2 separate regions of the Homo sapiens genome follow, and region 2 is linked to region 1. Evidence: fine-mapped expression QTL. Tissue or cell type: whole blood. Region 1 holds a variant in brackets; the other region holds the start of a gene. All regions are shown on one strand. Distances are from middle to middle.

The links. PIP is the estimated chance that this variant, and not a neighbour inherited with it, causes the effect.
Region 2: HK3 starts here. The variant in region 1 is fine-mapped to the expression of HK3 in whole blood (INTERVAL, PIP 0.97).

What each region holds. Positions count from the first base shown.
Region 1 is chr5:177,017,530-177,022,786 of GRCh38, forward strand. ZNF346 (zinc finger protein 346) reads left to right here and starts at 5,167. Exons shown (of 7, transcript NM_012279.4): 1 at 5,167-5,257. The coding sequence starts at 5,210. It also overlaps a transcript of UIMC1 not described here. RefSeq lists enhancers at 4,871-5,257, 4,932-4,981. The variant T/TA (reference allele first, on the strand shown) is at 2,399.
Region 2 is chr5:176,896,969-176,901,968 of GRCh38, forward strand. HK3 (hexokinase 3) reads right to left here and starts at 2,378. Exons shown (of 19, transcript NM_002115.3): 1 at 2,299-2,378. RefSeq lists an enhancer at 3,198-3,699.

The DNA of each region.
Region 1 (5,257 bases):
GGCTTCTGCCACCATGCCTAGCTAATTTTTGTATTTTTTAGTAGAGACGAGGTTTCACCATTTGAACTCCTGTCCGCAGGTGATCCGCCCACTTGGCCTCCCAAAGTGCTATGATTACAGGCCTGAGCCACCACGCTGGCCCTTTTTTTTTTTTTTTTGAGACAGGGTCTTGCTGTGTCACCCAGGTGGTAGTGCAGTGGTACAACAGCTCACTGCAGGCTCAAGTGATCCTCTCACCTCAGCCTCCTGAGTAGCTGGGACCAAAGGCACACACCACCACACCCAGCTAATTTTTTTAATTTTGTAGAGATAGGGTCTTGCCATGTTGCCCATGATGGTCTTGAACTCCTGGGGTCAAGCAATCCTCCCGCCTCAGCCTTCCAAAGTGCTGGGATTACAGGTATGAGCCACTGTGCCCAGCCTAGTCATTATCTCTGTTATAGCAGTTAAAACATACTCTCTGATATTACATACTCAGTAGATACTTTTATGTCTGTCACTAGATTAGACATACTAGAGTTAGAAAAACTAGAGTTTAAGGCTGGGCGTGGTGGCTCACACTGGTAATCCCAGCACTTTGGGAGGCCAAGGTGGTCAGACCACATGAGATCAGGAGTTCAAGATCAGCCTGGCCAACATGGTAAAATCCTGTCTCTAATAAAAATACAAAAATTAGCTTGGTGTGGTGGTGCACACCTGTAGTCCTAGCTACTTAGGAGGCTGAGGCGGAGAATTGTTTGAACCTGGGAGGCGGAGGTTGCAGTGAGCCGAGATCGCACCACTGCACTCCAGCCTGGGTGACAGAGTGAGACTCTGTCTCAAAAAAAAAAGAAAAGAAAGAAAAACTAGAGTTGAATCTCTTTGAGAGCAAGAACTATATCTTAAGCACTATAGTTTCGTTTGCACATGCACACACATGCACATACAGAGTCAGTATTTAAGCAACTGAAATGTATGCTGAACAGTAGCCAGTTCCCGTCCCTTAGCAAAGTCATTTCCCTGGGATTGTTCATCTCCCATGGCAACAATACACAGTAGGATGTGTTGGAAAATGGTTCTCATTTTCCACAAGGAGGAAATAAAAAGCCAGCCCAACAAATATAAGGCATCACCTGCACTGCCAGGTCCCAGCAAGGAGTCCAGGCCTGGGCCATTCCTGGAAGCACTTACACAAAGACAAAATAGAAAACTGGTGACAATGAAGGCTGTTCAGACCCTCAGCAGGGTAGCTCAGGACTCTGCCTCCATGGCACAGGGGATGAACCCTGACAGCACTCATTGGAGAATAAATGGACATTATTTTGAGCATGTAATTGGATTGGAGGTTGTTTTCCAATAATATGCAAAGCAACTTATATACTCCACTCCCAGTATTTGTTACATAGTATTAAAAATATCCTTGTGGGTTCTGCGACTTCGACAAAAATCCCCTGTATCCCTTGGATTATCCCTGAATAACTTATGCTATATGCAAGTGTAAGTAACTAGAACTCTTAAGATAAATAAGTAGTTTGTGACCATCCTGGCTAACATAGTGAGACCCCGTCTCTAAAAGTAAATAAATAAATAAAAAGAGAATAAATAATGTGCAGTCACTGACTTTTAGGCTGGTCATCTGGTTTTGGCAAAAGGACATAGATTTGCAATCTAAGGACCAGTGTTCAAGCATGGGCTCGTACCTAACTAGCTGTGTGATCTTCACAAAACCTTTACCTTTCCTAGTCTGTTTCTTTATCATCACTTATGAAGAAATCCCTCACAGAAACCACCCTGAGGATTAAATGCTATAATGTAGGTGCTTTGCAAACTGTAAAGCACTGCCCTGGGCTGGGTGTGTGGTTCACACCAGGAATCCCAGCACTTTGGGAGGCTGAGGCAGGAGGATCGCTTGAGCTCAGGAGTTTGAGACCAGCCTGGGCAATATAGGGAAACCCTGTCTCTACAAAAAAAAAATTTTTTTTAATTAGCTGGGCATGTTGGTGTCCACTTGTAGTCCTTGCTACTCAGGAGGCTGAGGCTGGAGGATCACTTGAGTGTGGGAGTTCAAGGTTACAGTGAGCTATGATCATACCACTGCACTAGTGAGACCCTGTCTCGGAAAAAAAAAAAAAAAAATTGTAGGCTGGGTGTGGTAGCTCATGCCTGTAATCCCAGCACTTTAGGAGGCCAAGGCGGGCAGATCACCTGAGGCCAGGAGTTCAAGACCAGCCTGGCCAACAAGATGAAACCCCGTCTCTACTAAAAATAGAAAACATAGCTGGGTATAGTGATGGATGTCTGTAATCCCAGCTACTCGGGAGGCTGAGGCAGGAGAATTGCTTGAACCCAGGAGGTGGAGGTTGCAGTGAACTGAGATGGTGCCACTGCACTCCAGCCTGGGCAACAGAGACTCCGTCTA[T/TA]AAAAAAAAAAAAATTGTAAAACACTGGCCAAACATCAGTCACCTACTGTATTGGAAGCTTGGAAGCTCTAGGGCCTGAGGCCTGACATAGTGCTGGTGCTCAATATTTGTAGTATAAATAAGGAAATACTTGTAGTATAAATGACTAAATTACACCAATGAGCTATATGATCTCAAGCAAGAATAATTCATATCTGTCTCTCTTTGGCCTCCTCTGATATTACTTTCCTCCTTGTTCACTGGGCTCCAGCCATGCTGTCGTTTTTCCTGTTCCTCCAACACATCATGCTCTCTCCTGCCTCAGGGCCTTTGTACCTGCTGTTCTCTCTGCTAGAACACTCTTGCCCAGCTCTTTGCATGGCTACGCCTTCTCATTAATCAGGTCTTAGCTCAAATGTCATTTTCCCAGAGGCTTCTCCTGATGCCACCCTGATTAATGTTCCTAACACATCATTCACCTGAGATGCAATCCTGTTTTATCTTCTCCTTAGCACTTATTATTGTTAACTTTTTTTGTTTTTGAGATGGAGTCTCGCTCTGTTGCCCAGGATGGAGTGCAGTGGCACGATCTCGGCTCACTGCAAGCTCCGCCTGCTGGGTTCACACCATTCTCCTGCCTCAGCCTCCCGAGTAGCTGGGACTACAGGCGCCCGCCACCACGCCCGGCTAATTTTTTTGTATTTTTAGTAGAAACGGAGTTTCACCATGTTAGCCAGGATGGTCTTGATCTTCTGACCTCGTGATCCACCTGCCTCGGCCTCCCAAAGTGCTGGATTACAGGCATGAGCCACTGCGCCAGGCCTACTGTTAACTTTCTTATTGTACTCTCCTCCACTACAATAAAAAATACTTTACTACAGCTTCCCTGTCTTGTTCACCACTATATTTCCATGCTCAAAATATCATCTAGCTCATAGTAAATTCTCCATAAGTATTTGAAAAAATGAGGTTGAAATAAGCTAGTAATATTAAAAGCTTCATTCATTAAACAAATGTTTTGTATATACCTAGGAGGGTCCAGGTTCTATTTCAAAGTGCTGGAGATTCAGGTGCAATGACAAGAGACAAAAGGCTACGCAAGGTGGCATGTGCCTGTAATCTCAGCATTTTGGGAGCCCGAGGCAGGCAGATTATGAGATCAGGAGTTTGAGATCAGCCTAGCTAACATAGTGAAACCCCGTCTCTACCAAAAATATAAAAATTAGCTGGGTGCCGTGGCATGTGCCTGTAATCCCAGCTACTCAGGAGGCTGAGGCTGGAGAATTGCTTGAACCCGGGAGACGGAAGCTGCAGTGAGCCGAGATCGCGTCACTGCACTCCAACCTGGCGACAGAGCAAAACTCTGCCTCAAAAACAATTTAAAAAAAGAAAGAAAAGAAAAGAGACAAAAATCCCTGCCTTCCTGGGGCTTGCCTTCTAGTCGGGAGACAGACAATAAGCAAGATAAAAGGTAAAATATAAAAGAAATAAAGCAGGAAAGAAGGACATGAAGTGTGTGTGGAAAAGTAACATTTTAGATGGGATAGCCAGACAAGGTATTTTAGATAGAGTAGCCAGAGAAGGAAGTGGGAGACTGAGCCATGAAGATATATGAGAGAAATTCACCCCAGGAGGCCTGGATAACTGGGACAGGAATTAAGGAGTTGGGGACTGAGTAACACATCAGGATCAGGGAGGTTAAGGGAAGTCAGATTGTACAGGGCCTTGTTGGTCGAAGTAAGGACTTTGGCTTTTTTTTTTTTTAGTCGGAGTTTCGCTCTTGTTGCCCAGGCTGGGGTGCAATGGCGCCAGCTCGGCTCACAGCAACCTCTGCCTCCCGGGTTCAAGCCATTCTCCTGGCTCAGCCTCCGAGTAGATGGGATTACAGGCATGTGCCACCACACCCGTCTAATTTTGTATTTTTAGTAGAGACGGGGTTTCTCCATGTTGGTCAGGCTGGTCTCGAACTCCGGACCTCAGGTGATCCGCCCCCCCTTAGCCTCCCAAAGTGCTGGGATTACAGGCGTGAGCCACCGCGCCTGGCCGGACTTTGGCTTTTACTAAGAGTGAGATGGGAAGCTGTTGGAGGATTTGAGAACCTAAGCGTCATGATCTGACTTGTCATAAGAGGATTCCTGGAACTGCTGTGCTGGGAATGCCAGTGAGGTTGCTACTACAATAACCTAGGCAAGAGATGGTGGCTCCCAAAGACACGGGAAGGAGCAGCTCTGGGGTTGGAAGATAAAATTTGGGGTCTGACAGCTACATTGGAGAAGCCTATTAGCCATTCGAGTGAACTGTGGAAGAGGCAACTGGATGTATACAGGTCCGGAGTCTCGGGGAAGATCAGAGCTGGGAGCTGGCACTTGGAACTCAACAAATAGTATGTATTATTAGCAGTAATATGGAACCTTAGCTGTACTACTACTTACTAGTAGCGAGCTCTTGAGTTAACCATTTTTAGGTTCTGGGCCTCAGTTTCCCTGTGAATGAAATGGCGAAAACACTCCCACATAACGGGACCTTGAGAACGAAATGAAAAGTATCAAGGGCTGACCGTGAGCAAGGTGAGAGCCATGAGCCAAAACCACACGAGCCTCTCCGGGAGGGGGGGGTCACTGCTGCGGAATCAGCGACAGGTTTCCGAATCCACGGCACACGCTCTGAGGTACCAGAGGTAGCAAAGCAAAATAAGCGCGGGGTCCCGCACGGCAGCGCGGGTGCAGCGCCCAAACCTCGCGAGATTTGTTGGCTGGGCCAAGTACCACCCACCAAATCTCGCGATACCTAGGCGCCTGAGAGGCTCTCTACCGGTGAGGGTTTGCGGGGAAGATGGAGTATCCCGCGCCGGCCACGGTGCAGGCCGCGGACGGCGGAGCG
Region 2 (5,000 bases), 120 kb before region 1:
TGCAGAGCAGAAAGAGCCCTGTACTCAGAGGTGGGAACCCTGCTCTCCACAAGGCAGCTGCACCCCATCTCAACCTCCAGGCTTTTCATCTGTGAAATGGGACCAACATGTATCAAAGGGTTGTGTGGGGCAAATGAGATCACGAGAGCAAAGGAACTTGCTCAGATGTGCATTCAGATTTATGTAGTTGAATCTGAACTGAAACTCTATGATTCTCCATTTCCTCTATAACATGAAAAGCTCAGTTCTTGTGAGGATTAAAGGAGTTAGTGGTCCTTTGCACACTGTAAGGAACTGTAGAAATGTCAGATACTTCGCTCATCCGAGCTGGAGGTGGTATTGCTGTTTCCATAGTCCCAAGGGAGCCCTCAGTGAGTCAGGTGCTCTTTAGGGGTGGGGGAAAAGGGAAACACAGCAGAGGGCCCAATATGGGAAGAGACATCTGTCCACTGAGTCACTTTACCTCCCTTCCTTGCAACAGCAGAACTTCTGGAAATATAGTACCTTCCCACCCCTACACTCCCCTCCTTGCCTACTCCCACTATGCTCACTAATTTGCCCTCCACGTGGTCACTGGTGACCTCCTAACTGCCCAATCCCAAGCCTTTTCCTCAGTCCCCACCTCTGCTGCCCTCTCTCAGGCATGCAAAGCCAGTAGTCATTCTCTTTGCTACAGAATTCCCCCTGTCCTTGGCTTTCACGGCCAGTCTCTCCTAGGTCTCCTTCCTGAGTCTCTCGTAGTCTTCATCAGTAATTTCTGTTCCTTCAGACAATGGGGTTCCCAAGTTTCGGTCATGCCCTCCCTCTACACTCCCTTTATCTCGCCCATTCCCAAGGTTTCATTAATAGCTGTGTCAGGGCTCCCAAATCTACCTTTGGCCTCAGCCAAATCCTAAATCCCAGTGGTCTGTTAGACATCACTATCTGGATGGTGGAGAAGCTCCTCAAATTCAACAAAGCCATACTCATTTTTCCATCACCTTACCCCCACAAAGCTCTTCTGTTCTCCACCTTGACTGGAGACATCGAAGTGTGCTCACTCACACGGCCGTTCGGGCTGCCTGCGCGCATCCCTCACCCTCACCTCCTCTATGCAATTGGATCTCAGGCTCTCTAAGAGCTCTCCTCTGCATCCCCTCCTCCCCATTCCCACACACTGCACCAGACCATCCTCCGGCCTGATTATTACAACAGCCTCCTAAACTGATAGCTCTGCTTCTAGTTTCTTCACCTCCTTACCCCACCCAACTTGATCACCTCTGCACTCATGGCCGGCACAGGGTCTGGTATAGGTATGTGCTAATGTGCCTTTCCAAAATTGGAAGCAAGGGGAGTGGGTAGTTTTTTATTTAATAAAGCAACAAATCAGCTTCTGATAAATCTCCCCAAACCATACATACCTATGCTGAGTTTCCAAATCTGTCAAATAGGGGTGTGGAATTCTTGTTCTATGCTGCAGGTCTATTTCAAGGATAAAATGAGGTAACTGGGGCAATTACCTTCGAAAAGGACTAAGGGCTACACACGTGTCTTTCTCAAGGCCCAGCTAGTTCATTTATTCATTCACTCACTCATTCATTCCCTCATCCATTCAATATTTATTCAGCATTTTTACATGACAGAATCTGTGAAGCAATCCCCAAGTAGCCCTAATATTTATATGCTAGGTAAATGTATTCAGCTCTGTCTCTTCCCACTGAGATTCCCTGTGGGGAGGGACATGTCTCCTTCACTGCAGTATCCCCAGAGCCCAGGGTCTGTTTGCCTAAGGGCCCCGTGGCTTCCCTTAGCTGAATGGGCTACACGAAGTGAGTTTTCCTCCTGAAAAGTACCCCAGGGACCTCTACTGATGTTGGGAGCTGCCATCGAGAACCAGCTGGCAGGCTGGGTGTGGTGGCTTGCACCTGTAATCCCAGCACTTTGGGAGGCTGAGGCAGACAGACTGCTTGAGCCCAGGAATGTGAGACTAGCCTGGGCAACATGGCAAAACGCCATCGCTAGAAAAAAATAACAAAAATTAGCTGGGTGTGGTGGTGTGCGCCTGTAGTCTCAGCTACTCCGGAGGCTGAGGTGGGAGGATCACTTGAACCCAGGAGGTCAAGGCTGGAGTGAGCCCTGACTGTGCCACTGTACTCCAGTCTGGGTGATAGAGAGAGAGACCCCATCTCAAAAACAAAGAAAGAGAACCAGCTGGCTTAATCTTTCCAGTGTCCACTTCCCCTGGTGTGAGCCAAACAGGAGGGATGAGGACAAGACAGCTGTGGAAGGAGCAGGCAGTAATTAGACCGAAGTGCTTACCTGGGACACAGAGAAGCTAGTCACTCTCCTCAGGTCTGAGCTCTTGTCTGGCAATATGAGGCACCCCAATGACCAAAAGCAACACTCAGGGGTGACCCGAGTTATAATATCCTCAAGCCCCACCCTTTTCCTCCACCACCACTTACCAAACATCAGCTAATTCAGGAAGCTGCACTTCCTTCCAAGCCTGCCCTAAGAGTAGCCCAGGCTAGGCAAGGCTGTGGTGAAAACTTGAGCAAGATGATTACCGCGAAGTGGAGCGTTGAACTGGGTCTAAGATTTTGGGCCATTCCCTCTACAATGCTGAGGGCTGTTTATTTTGCAAATATAGTGAGTTCTGAGGTGGTGGCTCGCCCCTAGAAGGAGCTGGAGGCGCCTAGCCTGGAAAGGTTATGGTAAGTACTTTTGAGCAAGAGGCAATGTGGGAGCACAAGCGGAAGGGACTGACTCTGCCGAGAGTGGGCAGGGCTAGCTGAAGAAGCTGAGTCTTGAAGAAAGAACAGCAGTATGCTGACAAAAGTGGTCCTTGACAAAGTGGAGAGCATGTGCACAACCACAAATCACACACACACAGCAATGAGGTGCAGCTCCAGGCGCCTGAAGAGGGTACACCAAGGTAGGAATATATAGTGGGAGAGGAGGTGACAGGCAGACTGCGGAGTCTAGCCTTTAGTCTGTAGCCTGCGCAGGGAGAGTAGGTTCACATCTTAGGTCTTCTCTACTGGAAGAAGGGGAGTGTTAGGCTGCTGTGGAGCTATTGGCGAACAAGCTGTTTTTCTGTGGGAATTTCTCCTCAAAGGCACAGAACCTTGGGGCACCAATGTAGAATACTAGACAGCCTGCAACAATCTTTGTTGAAGGCATGGATACACTTTAAAGCTTCAGGCTGCCTTGTCAGCAGTAACTCTATCCACAGATAGTAGGCCTCCACATGACATCAGGATGGAGACCAGAGATAGTGGCTCCTCTATCAGTAGTGGCATGAAGAGGCCAGGAAACATGCCAAACATCAGTCCTGCTGTGAAGTTTACTGGGTACCAACCAGGCATATAGGCTGTGAAAGGCAGGGAAGTGGGGGATGGGGTGGCAGAGGGTAGAGTGGCTGTCACAAACAACACAGCATCCTGCCTAGCCTGGGATCCCAGTCCCTTTCAACTTTGTTCAGTTGGGAGAGGAGAATGTGGAACTGACTATGAAAGGCCCAGCTGTGATTCATGCAGATAGCCTGCCATTTCTTGAGCCAGGGTGAGGATATGCCCCTGACAAGCATGGCCAGGGCTCTTCATCTGCGTTTCTGGAAGGTCTGTGTCCAGACCCCAGGAGCAGGGGTCCTGGTTCCCTAGTCAGAATGCCAGGGAAAGTCTGGGTCAAGGCCAGTGGAGGGAGAAGGATGGCTGAGCTTGAGGTCTGTGAGCAGCTGGGACAGCCTGGCTGTAGCAGAGGCACTGCAGCTGCCAGCGGTTCTCTTCAGACACCAGATGGCCACTGACCAACAAAGGGAAGGACAAGTCCTCACGAGGTTCCCTCATAGCCCCTTAGTGCCAATCTCCAACTGTAGAGATGGAGCTAAGGAATGAGGAAAGGCAGTTTGCTGGGGGAGAGGTGGGCACAACCAGAGCACTGCCGATGGGCTGGGAGGTCAGGCCTTCCCTCTGCGCTTGCTCACAGGCTTCTCACCACTCACAGTGCCCATGCCAGGCACAGAGATCCTCAATAAGCTCCCCCAATTTGTTCCACACCCTTTATACCGTGAATGTGCCTTGCAGCTCTCCTACACACATCGAGCTACTTCTGTTGTGTCTTTGTTTGCACTGACTTGTCTGGAATGACCCTCCCTTTGGCCTCTCCCACCTTTTCACCTCATTTTTCCTCATCCCTTAAATTATAATCATCAACGACAATGAGGAGCCCTTCTCTGAAAAGCTCCTCCTGGCCGACCCCAGCTGAGTGTGGTCTGCTTATTGGTTCCGTATTATGATGCATGTTCTTGTATCACTGCATTTATATCTGTTTATTAAAGGCATCTGTTTATGTGTTCTTCTTCCCCATTGTACTATGGGCTCCCAGAGAATGTTTCTTATTCACCCGTGCAGCCTCAGACCTCAGTTCTTTATCTGGCAAGGAACAAGTATCAATTAATTTTTGTTAAATTGAAGAGCCCTCCCACAATCTCAATAGTCCACGGCTGGCCAAGCATGATGGCTCACGCCTGTAATCCCAACACTTTGGGAAGCCGAGGTGGACGGATCACTTGAGGTCAGGAATTCATGATCAGCCTGGCCAATACAGTGAAACCCCGTCTCTACTAAAAATTAAAAAAATTAGCCGGGCGTGGTGGTGTGCACCTGTAATCCCAGCTACTCGGGAGGCTGAGGCAAGAGAATTGCTCGAACCTGGGAGGCAGGGTAAGTTGCAGTGAGCCGAGATCACGCCACTGTACTCCAGCCTGGGTGACAGAGCAAGACTGTCTCAAAAAAAAAAAAAAAAAAAAAAAAAGTCCAGGGCTTTTGAAACTGAGAGGAAGCAAGCAAGCTCTTACTGTCTTCCTGGTGCATATGGTTTCAGCAGTCTTTCCACTAGTCCATCTTTCCACTGACAACTACAACCCTCTCATCCACTTACTACCTGCCTTCCCCTCCCCAAATTCCCATCTGCTAACAACCTAAGGCCAAAGCTACCCTGATTCACAGGCAAAAATGAGC